2 separate regions of the Homo sapiens genome follow, and region 2 is linked to region 1. Evidence: fine-mapped expression QTL. Tissue or cell type: whole blood. Region 1 holds a variant in brackets; the other region holds the start of a gene. All regions are shown on one strand. Distances are between the middles of the regions.

The links. PIP is the estimated chance that this variant, and not a neighbour inherited with it, causes the effect.
Region 2: it holds the start of ANGPT1, and the variant in region 1 is fine-mapped to the expression of ANGPT1 in whole blood (TOPMed, PIP above 0.99).

Annotation. Positions count from the first base shown.
Region 1 is chr8:107,672,011-107,680,219 of GRCh38, reverse strand. No RefSeq gene overlaps it. Among named protein-coding and RNA genes, the nearest start is that of ANGPT1, 180 kb to the right of the region's middle. The variant C/T (reference allele first, on the strand shown) is at 4,860.
Region 2 is chr8:107,493,474-107,501,620 of GRCh38, reverse strand. It overlaps ANGPT1 (angiopoietin 1), which reads left to right and starts at 3,703. Exons shown (of 9, transcript NM_001146.5): 1 at 3,703-4,359. The coding sequence starts at 4,063. RefSeq lists a silencer at 4-204.

The DNA of each region.
Region 1 (8,209 bases):
GATGGGTCAAATGCAGTTTATGCTTCACTGTGTGTACTTTTAGAGTAATTCCAAACATGATGTTTGATAATATATTGAGAAGTAGGTGTTTGTTCTTCATCTTCTTTCACTCTCTGTCCCATGACACGACGTTCATGTTCCTTGAACAGCACGTGCATCCGCACATTAATTTAAACTCAACTTGATTACTTGGATCACCAGTGGCCTCTTGATAAGGATTTGCTTTGCCTGTGGGTTGTCTTGAGGCCAAGCATTATGTGTTGCTTGGATTTTTCTTATGAGGCTTGTTACTGGCTCTCAAACCCAGCATTCAACAAAAATCAGCTATCCAATGAAGTTAATCTGTCAGCCTAAGAATTTTCATTCTGGTGCTGAAAACAAAAGCCTTTGTAGGAAAAATCAAGTTGTTTAGCAAGTTAGACATGTTTTAAACATGTTTATGAGCTGATATCCATTCCTTCTCAGGCCTCACAATTAAGATTCTAATCCCCACTCTCTTGGAATTTGTGAAACCAATTTGAAGGACTCTGTGTAGTTTCAATAAACCTGTGTTAGGATTTATGTGGCCATAAAGGTGAAAGGATCCAGACCTAAATGCAAGCCCACTGAAGCATTGAAAATTCATATTCCGTGAATGAAAGTCACCAAAAATTACGAAGGTAGTTTGTAGAGTTTTACACATTCTCTGGAACATGCTCATGGAGTAGGAAAAGTGAGAGAATAAAAAAAACTACCATAGATTATCCTTCTCAAGGCAGTCATCCTTTATTTGAGAATTGTATTAACTTTTTGGGAATAGCTTTATTCTTTGTAGATTTTTGCTCTCATAAAGATGTTGACATATGATAACAATTCTGTTTTTAAAGGTGCTATGAGAACCAATCAATCCTTTATGAGTTAAATTGTGTCACCCTAAAAATGATATGTTGAAGTCCTAACCTCCTGTAGCTCAGAATGTGACTTTATTTGGAAATAGAGTCTTTGGAGATTTAACCAAGTTAAGATGAAGGGATTAGGGTGGGCTGTCATCCAATGACTGCCATCCTTATAAAAGGGAAATTTGAACAAAGATATACAGAGAAGGTGATGTGAATATGGCTGTGTGATGATGGAAGCATGGATTGGACGATGCAGCTGCAAGCAAGGAATGCCCACGGCTGCTGCCTACATCTAGAAGCTAGGAAGAGGCAAGGAAGGATTCTGCTGAAAGTCTCAGAGGGAGCATGGCCCTGCTGACTCCTGAATTTGGGACTTTTAGCCTCCAGAATTGTGAGACAACATGTATTTTCTTTTTTAAACCATCTAATATCACATACTTTTCTATGGTAGCCCTAAGCAAAATAATATACAATTCATTGTCCTTCATGAAAACACATCTGGAAGAATAGATAAGTGATAGAATATAATGCTGTTTGTCATTAATATATATTCTTTCAATCTATTTTTTAATGTTTTAAATGATAAATTTCTATTATTAATACAAAAGCTACACATATTCATTATGGAAAATGTTAAAAATAGAGAAAAGTGATCTGAATTGGTTCTTGCTCCATATAGTCTCTTCTCCAAAACATACCAAGGCAATCATCCTTTAAGAATTTTATTAACATTTTGGGAGAAGCTCTATTTCCTTCTCTGTAAATTTTTGCTTTCATAAAGAAGTTGGTACAGTCAAAGCATTTAGAGGGAACTGGTTAAAATACTGATCTTGCCTATTCTCTGATTGGAAGCTTTAATATCTACCATCTCTCTCACAGCAAAGTCCATAGGATTATATGGACCTATGATCCATATAAATCATGACAGCAAGAGTTCTCAATAACCTGGGGCTGTCTGAAAACTTCTGATGTCTGGGCTCTATCCTAGATAAATTCCGACAGAATCTCTGAGACTGCAGCCTGGGCACAGGTATTCTGAGAATCTTCCTGGGGATTCTAATGTACTCCAAGGTGAAGAAACATTGCCTATCATAATCTCTGCTCCCCATTCCTGAAACCCCTTCTTTTTGCCCCTGTTATCTTTTTGATCATATCTTTTATGGCCTTCCACCTCACTTACTCCACCTCAGCCACACTAGCCTTCTTGTGGACTTTTCTTGTCTTTTGAGATGGAGTCTCACTCTGTTGCCCAGGTTGGAGTGCAGTGGCATGATCTCGGCTCACTGCAACCTCGGCCTCCTGGGTTCAAGCAATTCTCCTGCCTCAGCCTCCCGAGTAGTGGGACTACAGGCACACACCACCACGCCAGGCTACTTTTTGTACTATTAGTAGAGATGAGGTTTCACCATGTTGGCCAGGCTGGTCTTGAACTCCTGACCTCCTGATCCACCTGCCTTGGCCTCCCAAAGTGCTGAGATTACAGGCATGAGCCACCACACCCAGCCTTTTGCAGCCTTTTCAAGCTTGTTCATGCATGTTCTCACGTGCTGTTTGTTATCTCACCACTCTCACAGCTATCCAACCACCTGACTGGCTCCCTCACTTCTCTCAGGTCTCTGCTCAAAGGAAAGCTTATCAGAAAGGCCTTTTTTTGACCCTTTTAATAAAATACTCCCCCTATCCCAACCCTTACACACTGCTGCCCTCATGCTTCTTTTCCTTCTAGTCTGTTTTATTTTTCTTCATACATTTAACAACCTCTGAACTATTATTTCACTTATTTATTTTTTAATTATCTGCCACATCCAACTTGAATGTAAGCCCCCTGAGGGCAAGGACTTGGTGTTGTTGTTCACTGCTATATCCCCAGCATAATGAGTGACAGAATAGTCATTCAATATTTATTTGTTGAACCAATAAATGAATTGAGGTAGGATTGGGGGATATTCTGACTCGTGAAATGAAATTATGTCCTTGTGGGTTTGTATTGCATATACATTAATTGAAGGAAAAGTGGCCAAATAAATAACTAAAATTGATGAGTGCCTCTAAATTTTTGTTTAGTGATATTAAACTAATTCCAAAATGTGTTATAAATAAATAAGTATATTAAGGAAATATTTGGGTATTTTTCTGAAAAAGATGGGCTTTTGTCTATTTACAACTTTGCTAGAAGGACTTAATTCCATGTTTATTCAATTTTGGAGTTAACTTCTCCTATCACGGCTGTCCTGATCATTTTATTACAATAAACTGATAAAAGGTAAACTGAAGCAAAATACAATTTTAAAGAGTTTATCTGAGCAAACAATGATCCACAAATAGGGCAGCTCCAAGCAGAAGTAGTTTGGGGGCTCCAACAAGTGAACACAAAGGCAAGGCTTCTATAGGATGAACATGAATGTAAAGCAACTAAAATATTTGATTGGTTATGGTTATATATTAGCCATATTTGGTCTATCCTACTCAAAAGTTCCCAGTTATATGAACTGTTACAGGATTAATTTTCCATAATGATCATAAGTTAATGGGCAACTTCTGATTGGTTGAGCTTGTTTTATTTATTTTTTAAAAAATATAGGCACTTACAAGAAACAGCCCAAGTTAAGTTTGACTTATGTTTGCAAATCAAACAAAGTTAAGACCACTTATGAGGCCTAACTGGCTTTGTCTACTTTGGGATTCTTCAGGCCCGGTCTCTATTTTAACTTACTTTGACAAAACAAAACAAAATAAAAGAACAAGAGAAATTCATGCATATTCTGAATATGTTTAAACCTTCAGTGTCTTCCTGACATTTCTCTTTCTATTTCTCAGTCATTTCCTTTGCTTAATATTTTAATTTTCTGCTTGTCCTTTTACTCTAAAAACTCCAGATCATAATTCTTTATCTTCATTTTTTACTCATACCTCGAATATTGTTATTGGCCCTGTCCTCATTATACCCAGGCTGGAGTGTGCACAGCGTAATCCTGGGTCACTGCAGTCTCTGCCTCCCAGGCTCAAGTGATTCTCCTACCTTAGCCTCCCCAGTAGTTGGGACTACAGGTGTACACCACCATGCCCAACTAATTTTTGTGTTTTTAGTGGAGACAGGGTTTCACCATGTTGCCCAGGCTGGTCTCAAACTCATGAGCCCAAGTGATCTACCATCCTCAGCCTCCCAAAGTGCTGGGATTACAGGTGTAAGCCACCAAGCCTGGCCTAATTATACATATTCTTGAATGTTCTTTTCTGTCCCCAGTAACTTCAATGGTTTTCACTTTGGTTGCTCTTTAGAATATCTAGAGAGTCTTCAAAAGTAGCAATGACTAGTTCACCATTTGAATAAGAAGCTCTGGGTTGAAGTTCAAACATTCGTTTCAAAAACTCCTTGGGTAATTCTAATGGGTAGCCAGAATTGAGAACCACTGATGGATGTTTAAAACCTCTCAGATCACAGATTGAACATTTTCTGTATTTTTGAGGCAGAGGATAATATAAATGAGGTGTAAGTTGGCAGAGTAGAGAATGGATTGTACCAAAGAATATCAACGGGAGAGACTGGAGGAAAAGTCAGTTTTTGCAAGTGATGAGAACCTGAATTTAGAACACTGGTGATAAAGGTGGAAAGATAACAGATTATACAGACACTAGGGAGGAGTTTTCAATAAAATATTGCTGTATGACAAACTACCTCAAAATTTAGTGGCTCAAAATAATTGCTGGCTTAAAAAGACAGCAGTTTTTTCCTAATAAATTTGCAGTTTGGCTAGGTCTCAGTGGGAATGTCCTGTTTCTGCTCTGTGTGATATCACCTCATGTGGCTCAGTGGATCTGAAGAGTCTGATTTTAAGATGGTTCACTCACATGGCCGATAATTCCTACTGGCTGTCACTTTGCAGCTTGGCTAAGGCTGTGGTTCTGAGAGCTTTGATTTCCTTAAAATGGGCTTCTCCATAGGTTGCTTGGGTTTCCTCACAGTATGGTGGCTAGTTTCAA[C/T]AGCAAGCATTTCAAAAGAACAAAGGGGAAGTGAATTGCATTTTTATAACTTAACTCAGAAGTCAACTTAACATTGTTTCTAGTATTTTGGTTGAGGCAGTAGAAAGGCCAACTTAGATTCAAGAAAAAGGGGCATCGATTCCACATCTTAATAGACACAGCAGGAAGGTTTGAGAAGAAATATAGGCTAGGAGATGTGGTGGCCATCTTAAGACACTACAGTCTACCACCATGTTGGGAACTGATTGGAAGAGGACAATGAAAAGTGAAGAAGGAAGAGCAAAAGTAATTTAAGCAAAAACAATCTTAAATTGCTTTTTAGGATTACATACAATCTCAAATTGTATGCTTACTAGGGTTATTATCCTCCAAAAGTAATACTGTTATTAACTAGGGCTGTGGGGAAATATTGTTTGTATTATATGTTCCTAAACCCTAGGGTGTACTTCATTTCATTTGCTTTGTTCAGCACCTGGATTGTACATTAACAATGGATAATGCTTTGGAAGGGTGATGATAGTTTTCTAAAAGTTTTCAGAGACCTTTAATACTTAGGCTATTCTTACACATTCAACCGATTAAATTTTTTGGCTAAATGTACACATCAACTCAAACACCTGGTAAAGTTAGTAAAAAAAAAAAAATAAAACCGAAAAACAAATATAAAACCAATTACTGAAACCTGATGACTTTGTTTTTAAAAGGAAAAGCCCATGATTTTCTTTTTAAAGAAAATAGGAAGCCAATCATTCCAACTCACTATTATTATTTTAAAAGATAATACAGAGAATTTCCTGACTTAACTCTGATCCATTTCCAATTATAGGCTTCCATGTTTGAGAATACAAAATGGGCCCTGTGGAATCAGCTCTCTGTCTTAAGTAAATTTATTAAATATTTTTTAAAAAGAAATGACCACCAGAGTCCATTTGAAAAGTAAGCTTACTGTGGCAGTCCCAGGGTTAGCTGCAATGAATATAATGTGATGATAATGACTATGATGAGTGGTAGCTAAGAAAATGTAGATAGAACAGTGTTCTAGGTTCCTTTTGGCTCATTTATCCCCATTGGCAATCACCCCAAAAGAGGGGCTCACACCCAGCTCTGCCTTGTCCATGTGAGTTCTTGGTTCACAAAGTCTCATACAGCAGAAGAATAAAGGGAAGGAGAATTGAAAAATCCTTTTCGGTGGTTTTGTTGCAAGCCTAAGTTTGTCAAACACTCTAGCTGCATATTTTTCCTAGAATGAAATATTCTCATGGCTGCCTAGATTTGTTGTTTTTGTCAAAGTTCAAATTGTATGAATCATGTAAAAAGGATATAATTAAATGTATAAGAAACTTTAATATTAGGAAAACAGGTGAGTGGCAAAGCACTGTTAACATATTCATGCATTAAGCAAATATTTATTAAATGCTTACAATGTGCAAAACAGTATCAAGTGATATAAGAAGCTTGTTCTGATTTAGATCAAACTTGGATACAAGAGTTGATCTTTCTTGTTGGTCCAGTATTCACTTTCATTCAGTTAAGTTTACAAAGCTGCACATTGCTTACAATTTGACTCATCGACTGGAAGGTTTTTATTATTGCTTTCTCTTTTCCCAGGCTTTTCATTGACTGTCTGAATACACACCATGAAATCAGCACCATTGGCTTCAAAGACATTTATTAAAACGATGCATTTGTAAGAAGAAATTTTATGAGATCTGTGGCTTATGAAGTCCTTGATCTATTTAATCCAGATGATTGGATCCTAATGTTTGCAGCAAAGACAGGCCCTAATGCTTATAGGTAAGATGAGAGAAGTTTTAAACTAATCAATTGCAACAGGGTGCACAGTTCCTTTTCGATGACTATGACCCTCACATTTATTACCTTTGTTTTTTTTTTTTTCTAGGTCCACTCAGCATAAAGTTAAAAGTGCTTACATGCTAGACAGCTCTCTTGGAGGAGTAGCCTGCAAAAACTATATCTTTAAAGGTTTATTTTCTGTGTAGCTATACTTGAGTGAATGTGTGTGTGTGTGTGTGTACATTCAAGATCTGTACATCTTATTCATAAAAATGAACCAATCAATATCTACCAAAGAAAAGTTCAAGAATGCAAATTTTTAAGAGCAAAAATGATAAAAACACAGAAAGAGCTTTTCTTAGGCAATGATCTTATCATTGAAAGACGTTTCAACACAGTAAAATAGATTTTGGCTGAGGAACAAAGACATTTATTAAGTACCTTCTATATCCACGTCAGGCACTGGGTAGTCATTGGAAAATCAAAGATGAATTAAGATTTGGCTCACACCTCTGGGAAGTTGTGGGGGGTAGGGAGGGGTTAAAGAACTTGACTCAGGTGTAAAGAAAAATAATGCACTAGCACATATGCTGTGGTAGTTACCTGCAGGAAGGAGTTGAGGAAGATACTTGAACTGGTGGTTGAAGCATGACTAGGGGTTTTCTAGGCAGAAATGACAGGACATTATGTTCCAGGAAAATAACCACAGGGACAAGATACCATGGAGGAAAAACACACACATGCAACCAAATTGCCAAACCCCAGGAGCCTGTAAGAGAAAGCAGCACAGGACAGATCAGGATGGTTCAGAGACTTGGACAGTGTAAGACACCAGCTGGAGACTGGAAGGACTTGAGGATTTACAGCTCTTGACAAATAAAGAGGGAGAAATTATCAGTGGCTATTCAACAGCAAGGACAGCGTTTCCAAACCAGCCTAGTCAGGGGCAGCCTTGCAGGGCAGTTATAAACAGAGTCTGTGGAGCCAGATTGCCTGGTTTGCATCATTGATATATCACTTACTCCCTGTGGGACCTTGGGCAAGTTACTTAACTCTCTGGGTTTCAGTTTACTCATCACCAAAGGAAGACGGATGACAACAAAAGTATGAGGTTGATACTGTGAGAATTGTATGAGTTAATGTACATGCACATGGACCAGTGTTGACATGATATGTGCTATTGAAATGTGGTTAAAGATGGAGGTTTACATCATTGACATGTGCACAAGAGGACCAGATGAATGACATGACACCCACTGTATCAGTAAGGCTGTGTGTGATTGGGGAAGTGAACCACTATAGCTGATAAAGAGCAAAGGATTTATTATATGATGATCTTATACACCTTACACAGGTACTGGTTAAGCATTATATGTAGTTCTGCTACCTCTATATTTGAAGTGGGGCCAAAAGTTGGCAGGGTGAACACTTGAGCAGATAGATGGATGACATGAAGTCAGGGAGGCAATGGGAAGCCTGGAAGTTGTATCAGTATCTCATGCCTTCATGTCTCGTTTTTCATGATTTAGGTGACATGCAGAAGCTGGTGCCCTTCT
Region 2 (8,147 bases), 180 kb after region 1:
GGCTTTATCCTCAGTTCTTCATGCCTAGGGATTCTAGGCAAACTCACCCAACAAATGCAATGAATGTGGCCAGTCATGTAGTAACCAGATAGAGAGTCAGGAAGTTGCATCAACTGAGTCATTAATCAGCTCATTCATTTATTTGCTTATTCTTTCATTCCTTCAGACAAAGTGCATAGTGAATGTTGAGGAATCAATGATGACAAAGAGAAGATCACTTTAGCAGCTCACAGCAAAAGCAAGAGACAGATAAAAAAAAAGGCAACAATTAGCAAGCAACGTGAGCAGTGCAGTTTTGGAGACATGAGGAGAAGGTTATTGAAATTTAACACAGAGAGCATTTATTGGACCTGGAGAAATTAAGAAAGCTTTACCAAAGAATTATCAAAGACTGTTTCTTAGGATAGATTTAGGCACATTAAGTTCTGGTATAAATGGCTCTTGGTCCCTTTGGAAATTTCAGACTAAGTGGGACATTTACTAGGACTCTTTGTAAATATGAGATCAAAACCTTAAAGCCTACACTTCCTTATTCCAGATCTCTAATAAAACACAAAGCTTTTGGGTTCAAGCTACCACAGAATTCAATTGAACAGAATTGTTTAGTTCTTTATAAATATTTTATCCTTCATGGAGGTGTGGTAGATGAATTTTAATTGGCTTGTTCTTATTACTCGCTTATTATTATTATTATTATTTAGAAAGGGTCTCACTCTGTCATCCAGGCTGGAGTGCAGTGGCAATCATGGCTCACTGCAGCCTCAACCCCCTGGACTCAAGCGATTCTCTCACCTCAGCTTCCTGAGTAGCTGGGACCACAGGTCCTGGGCGTGCCACCACACCTGGCTAATTTTTATTTTATTTTATCTTGGGTAGAGACAGGGAGGGTCACCCTATGCTGCCCAGGCTGTACTCAAAATCCTAGTCTCCAACGATCCTCCCACTTCGGCCTCCCAAAGTGCTGGGATTACAGGCATGAGCCACTGAACCCAGCCCTACTCCCTAAATTTTAATGCATCCTGAATTCTGCCCCATTTCTGAATAATCAGCAACACACAACAGTGTTGCTGTTGCTTAGATGCATGATCCCAAAGACATATTATCTTTAGTGTGTCAGGATCCTTAAATGTACCTACAGTCTCCTTAACTGGAGTTCCAAAAACACCGGAGTCAATTCTGCACATCCTTGTGTTTTCTAATTACTTAAAATTCATCTTCAGACATTTTTTTTCAGAATGACACTAGTACTTCCAGTGTTATGGTTTAAGGTTGATTTTGTTTTTCTGCAAAAGAAATAAATCAGTCTCTACATTTTTCTCTGTCTCTTTGTCCCTCGACCCCTCCTTTTTTATTTGCATTTCAGGCTTCTCTTTCTTAGTGTCTACTTTTCCCTCAGGAAATTGTGCATTCCTGCTTTTCATTTATTCTAATTGCGAAAATTCACATGGATAAGGACACAGAGACGTACACAGACACACACGTGGAGGAACAGATTTTTAACAGTCTCGGCTATTTAAAAACACAGGAGCACTTTAATAGAAACCTCACCACTCATCCATTAGTCTTCTGCCAATTTTCTGCTGTATTTAGTTCTTCGCAAAACACTTCTAGGTGTCGGGTTTGGACTCTCTTCTTTCCATGGATAATTTTCAAATCAAGCATTATTGGAAAGTGTTCTTAGACAACCTGCATTTTGCCAGTGCACTTCATCTTTGTGGCTGTGCATAGGTTACCTGTCACTGTGTGTGTGCGTGTGTGCGTGTGTGCGTGTGCGCGCGCACGCGTGTGCTGGAAAAGGCCTGAATCACTTTGGAGAGATACTCTGGTTTTAACAGTGCTTTTTCTTCTAGGTACGTCACTTCTCCTGGTTTAGGACTGTAAATCAATGCAGCTGGAGCGCTTTTGAAATTGCTTTCATTCCTTGCAGAGATTTCCAAAAGCAGGCTGGCCTGGTGGTTTGAAACAGGCTCTGAGTCAGTTTGCCTGAGTTCACATACTGGCGCCATCACTTGCCAGCTCTGTGAATTACATCCTGTTAGCCTTTCTGTGACTCAGTCTTCCCATTGATAAAATGGGGTTAAACGGATGATATCCGTGATCTTAGGTTTGTTGGAATGATTAAGTGAGATAGTGTGTAAGGAGTGCTTCGCCTGGAAAACAGTAAGGTCTTAATGCATGCCATTATTATTGTTGCACAGGAGTGATACATGACTCAATGAGGAGACACGCAAAAGTTCAAGAGGCTGCAAAAGTGGTTCAAATATTTTATTGCTGTGTTTGGCATAACTTGCTTCCATATCTGTCCAATCAGAAATTTGTTATTTGGTGTGGAAAGGACTGATGAATCTCGGCAAGGTTTCTTTCCCCAAGTAAATCGCATTTGTTCTGGAATTTGTTTTGACCTCTCCTCTAACTTCTCCCTAAATGCCCATCTCTAACCACTACGGACCTTCACCCACTGCCCTGTTCTCCTTCCAAGACATGGGAGATGACAGCTGTGGCTTCTGTTTTCACACCATGACTGCAGTTGTCTAAAAGCCCTCCCAGTTCCTAATGAAAATCCCAACTCATAATTCAGGTTTTCTGCATCTAGTAAAGATCTCAAAGCCGTTCCCTAAATTCTACAATTATTGCCTGTTTATGTTTATGGGTCCCTTTGTTCAAATGTTTATACGCTGCCTGTGGGAAATCATCTTCTGATAATTTTTCTTTCTTCCTTCACAGAAGCACAGAGATGTCTCCTGTACAGCCCATTGCTGGCTGTTAGCACACCTGATATATGCTTGTTCTCACATAGTATGTCTGTGCAGCCACAGGAGGTTTTTATGTGGAACTTCCACACCAGTGTTAAAGACAGCCATAGCCACCAAAGAGATCCTTGTAAAATACAGGATTAGGATATACCACAGGAATTAATAATTCTCAAGCCACTGCTTTAAATTGTAGCCACATTGTTTTTGTAGGGAAGTTGCTCAATTTATATACACAGAACATGAAGGGTTGCATTCTGATCAGGACACCAGTTTCATTTAAGAACCCTATACCAAAAGGTACTTAGATAACCCTCTTTAATATGCACATACTATATTGCTTTGTGCAACATATTGCTTTGAGCAACAAATGATGCTAATTTTCTTGCTAATTTGATCCTCTCTGATTATTTTCTTCAACTCCTAAAAGTCTAAGTGAATACAATGAAAGAATACCATCTGTAAAAACTGTTTTTTAACATATTTTTCCTCAGAGTCAAGAATACATGTTTTTTAAAGACATTTAATAATGATATGGGTTTATCATTCTCTATCAAAAATAATTCCATTGGACATTATGCCAATTTTCTTCTTAGGGTCCCTCGACTAAATAGTAACTTTAAAAACATACTGCTAGTTTGCTATATTTTAGTAGGTCAGCATGCACACCAAAAGTGTATTAAGGTGGACTGCTCTATTTATTGATTTGCCATGAATCTGCTAAAGGCTCAAGGCAATTGTCTGTGGAAAGGGGCGGGAGGGCCATACATGATCGAGGTCATGCGCATCTAGCCAATTTGTAAGACGATCCCGCCGCCCTAAGCCATCAGCAATCCTTAGTATAGGGGCACACTCATGCATTCCTGTCAAGTCATCTTGTGAAAGGCTGCCTGCTTCCAGCTTGGCTTGGATGTGCAACCTTAATAAAACTCACTGAGGTCTGGGAGAAAATAGCAGATCTGCAGCAGATAGGGTAGAGGAAAGGGTCTAGAATATGTACACGCAGCTGACTCAGGCAGGCTCCATGCTGAACGGTCACACAGAGAGGAAACAATAAATCTCAGCTACTATGCAATAAATATCTCAAGTTTTAACGAAGAAAAACATCATTGCAGTGAAATAAAAAATTTTAAAATTTTAGAACAAAGCTAACAAATGGCTAGTTTTCTATGATTCTTCTTCAAACGCTTTCTTTGAGGGGGAAAGAGTCAAACAAACAAGCAGTTTTACCTGAAATAAAGAACTAGTTTTAGAGGTCAGAAGAAAGGAGCAAGTTTTGCGAGAGGCACGGAAGGAGTGTGCTGGCAGTACAATGACAGTTTTCCTTTCCTTTGCTTTCCTCGCTGCCATTCTGACTCACATAGGGTGCAGCAATCAGCGCCGAAGTCCAGAAAACAGTGGGAGAAGATATAACCGGATTCAACATGGGCAATGTGCCTACACTTTCATTCTTCCAGAACACGATGGCAACTGTCGTGAGAGTACGACAGACCAGTACAACACAAACGCTCTGCAGAGAGATGCTCCACACGTGGAACCGGATTTCTCTTCCCAGAAACTTCAACATCTGGAACATGTGATGGAAAATTATACTCAGTGGCTGCAAAAAGTAAGTGATTGCTTTCAGTTTCTAATAGCACGGACCTTTTTCCTTTCTTGCACTGCAGCTAACTTAAAGTTCCTTAGGGGAGCATTTGTGTATTTACCTTTTGCTCCAGGGGGGCAGTGTTTGCAATTGCAAGACGGCTGTCTGGGTTTGGCTTCCTGGGTAAGCCAAGGTTTGGGGGCTTGCCCAAACCTATGAATGTGTGGGGGCACCCCGTTTGTGTGTCTAGCCCTGGCAAATTTTATGACATTTTTGGTTTCTCTTTTCTAAAGTTCAGCATTAAGGTTCTCTCTGTCAAAACACTACCTTAAGAAAGAAAGTATGTACCTCTTAAGCAAGTTGGTGAAAAATAAATAATAATGACAATATTAATTAATAAGATCAAATCGATTTTGCACCAGAAAATTTTGTGCCGCTGGGGTGGCAAATCATCACAAAGTATTTGTTTTTTTAACCTTTATAAAAATTAACATGAAGTGAGAGTAAATATAAAATATGATATTTGGTTGGAGAAATTGTATATTTATGTAAAGGGAACTGTTAGTTTCAGCAAGTGGTAGAATAGTAGACTGATTTCTGTTAAATATTTTTTTCTTCTGTCCTTGAGAAAAAAAATTAAAAAGATACATTGTAATGTTAACTGTCGGAAAGGGGTTGCTCGCTCACGATGAGGGCATGCTGGCTGTTGAGGAAGACATGCACCTGCAGATATGGGCTGAACGCAGCATGTAGTCTACTATATTCCTGAAATACCTCCCTTCTCAGGGCATTGTAGTTAGAGACAGTACCTGGCGAGTTTAAGTATCCATGTTATTTGATGAATGTTAATGTTGAGTATGAATGTAATCTCAATTTATAGAAATCAAATCGAATAGTTTATCCAGTTATTTATCTACAAACCATTTAAGTTTTTGTTGAAGATAAGCCTATTAAATTATGAACACACTTCTGCAATTCATTCTGTCTTTGCACTCTGTTTAATAATAGGCAGCCGAGAATAAGTATATTCAACTGACTATGCTACTAGAAGGGAGGCAATGTCTCAATTTGTGAAAAGCTTCTCTCCCTTGTTAATGGATTCACTTGGTACATGTAGATAGGTATGCAATCAGGCTTCTTTAAGTTAGTCTGTTAACCGGGCAATCCCTTTAAAAAGATAAAAGATAGGGAAAGGACAAATGCTCTATTTTGTTCCTGTGTGGTCACACTCACTTAGGTCATTGCCTGCTGAATCATGCCAAGTAATAGTTATTCTACTTTTGTCCACTAGGGACTGAACTAAGATCACTGTTATTTTATTTGACACATTAACTGGAACTTAGTAGTTCTACAGTTTCCAAAGCTGATATTGTAATCTTTCTATTACAGACTATAGGACTGTAATAGGCAATCAGTAGGTAGGCAGAAGAATAAAAAGCAAACAGAACTCTCAGGTTTTTTACAATTGTAGCTGAAATTTTATGCATTACTTTCAGTAGTAGTTTATAATAGGATGTTTGTATTTTTCTTTGGTAAAATTTATTTCCATTGTAAACAAATGATTTTGGTTGAACAGCTTGTTATTATTCTTCAGTACACCATCCGTATAGTTTTTAGTGAGAATTCAATCATTACATATTAGTCTGGATTCTTTGAGGGAACGGGAAGGAAAATTTAGTCCCAAGTTATCCTGAATGATCTATTCTACCAAAAACGTAATGTTTTGTTTGCTTAAAGCGTATAATCACAATAGTGATTCAAACATAGTAATGCATATTTCTTGTTGCTATGCAATTATTCAGCAGTGACAGGGTAAACACATAATTCTGCTGGGCTTAAATCATGCACGTGTTTCATATGTTAATTTATTTTGCAAAATAAATTTGATTCTTGTTTGCATTGTTCTTGGTCAATGATTATGGGATAGCTTTCAGATTATAGCCAAGAATAACTATTAAAATGTTCTTTGGTTACATTCACCCTTTCAAGTGTAAAAATCAAGCTGAATATATGCTGAAAACGTCCCTATTGGTATGAGTCAGAGCAATGTGGCTTGACTATTGTCAGTTTAAATTTGCATATCTTTTGTCATTGTCAATGTGATTGGTTGGAGGATCAAGAAACCAAAAAATGCATTCAGCAAAGAACTTGCTAAAGGCTTTCATAAGTTTCCCTTAATTAGGAGTTTTCTTCACTCCAAGTTCTAAACTTCATGTGATATTTTTATTCTGATAATTGAAATGGAAATCTTTTTACTGTAACCATTTGGTATGCTCAGTACTGCAATTTGTATTACTTCTATTTTGATTCCAAGTAGTTGCCATAGGAAGAAGCAACACCCTGCAGAAACTGAGGCTATCAGTGTATGTAGGTGAAATTAATTTATCCATTTATTTGGCAAAATAATTAATCAAAGCATAGTGATTATTATGCAGCTCATGGCATCGCTATCAGGAAAGGTTTTGAGGCAGAATAGATGTGTTATCAACTCTAAATGAAGCTATATGATAATTATGTTAATCCATCACCTTCCATGAAGGGAAACCTCCTTCCTCAACTTTTCTGGTCTTGCAACTGAACAGGATGAGAAGCAAGGCATGCAAGGGGGCAAATGATTTGTGGGTCACCATAAATACTGGAACTGTTATGGCACTGCTTTCTTGATGTGATGGATTTAATTCAAAGAAATCAACTTTCCATAATCACTTGTCGATTAAAATGAGGTAGGTTGATAGCATTATTGTGACATCTCAGACCAGGAAGGGTGGTGTGAATAATATGCCTAACATCATAGTTTTATTTTGTGAAACACCTGGGTGTGTTTCTGGTTTGATCTCTTCTGTAATACAGCTCTTTTTGGAATTATTAGCAAGTCATAGTAAATACCTGAGAGTGACCAGCTCTTAGATAAGTAATGATAAATACAGCTGGCCTCTGTGTCTTTGTCACTTTCTTATGATCTCTCCCTACCTCTCTATGACAGTGAAACATTTAGCCCACATCCTGTACTTTGTGAACTATTGTTTTCTGTCTCCCACATCTCAAAAAGTTCACAAAGATGTACATTTAAAATATTTAGATTTAAATATGTATAATGTTCTAAGATTTGGGGAATCCTTAGAAGATCTGTTTTGCTTTTGCCAAATGATGTCTTTTTTTGTTAAAAGTTTAAATAAATTGAGTCAATAATGCCTTGTAACAGAAAACAATAGTCTATTTGCTATACATATTTTACACTAGCTAAAATTGATGACTATTAATGGAAAATATAGTTATGAATTGCCATCCAGAATATTTTAAGAAATACAAAGATTTTACTGGACTATTTAGCTGTTTTTCTATTGACAACATTTTTTGGTTAAGGATGTCCCCTATTTGCATATTGTATTCTTTTCTTCAGAGTTAAGATTTGAAATGCTATTACCCAAAACACATTGATGATGACGATTTTTTTAAACCCATATATTACATATATATTAATCCCTATTAATATCCATTAGAATGTGACCTCCATGAGGCCAGTGACCATGTGTGTTTGTCCAATGTCATAACCTCAGTTCCCAGAAGAGTATATAACATATTTATAACAGATATGCAATAAATATGTGTTAAATGAAAAAATGAATGCATTATCTATTGCATTCTGCACTTTACTGTCTACTGTCAGCATTTTATTCGAGGTATACACCTTACCTCTTCAATAGATTGTAAGTTGTCCTATAGGCAAGGACTATAACCTATGGTTATTTTTGTCCTAATACTAGTTAAAACAATATTGGGTCCAGAGTAGGTGGTTATTAATTATTCAAATT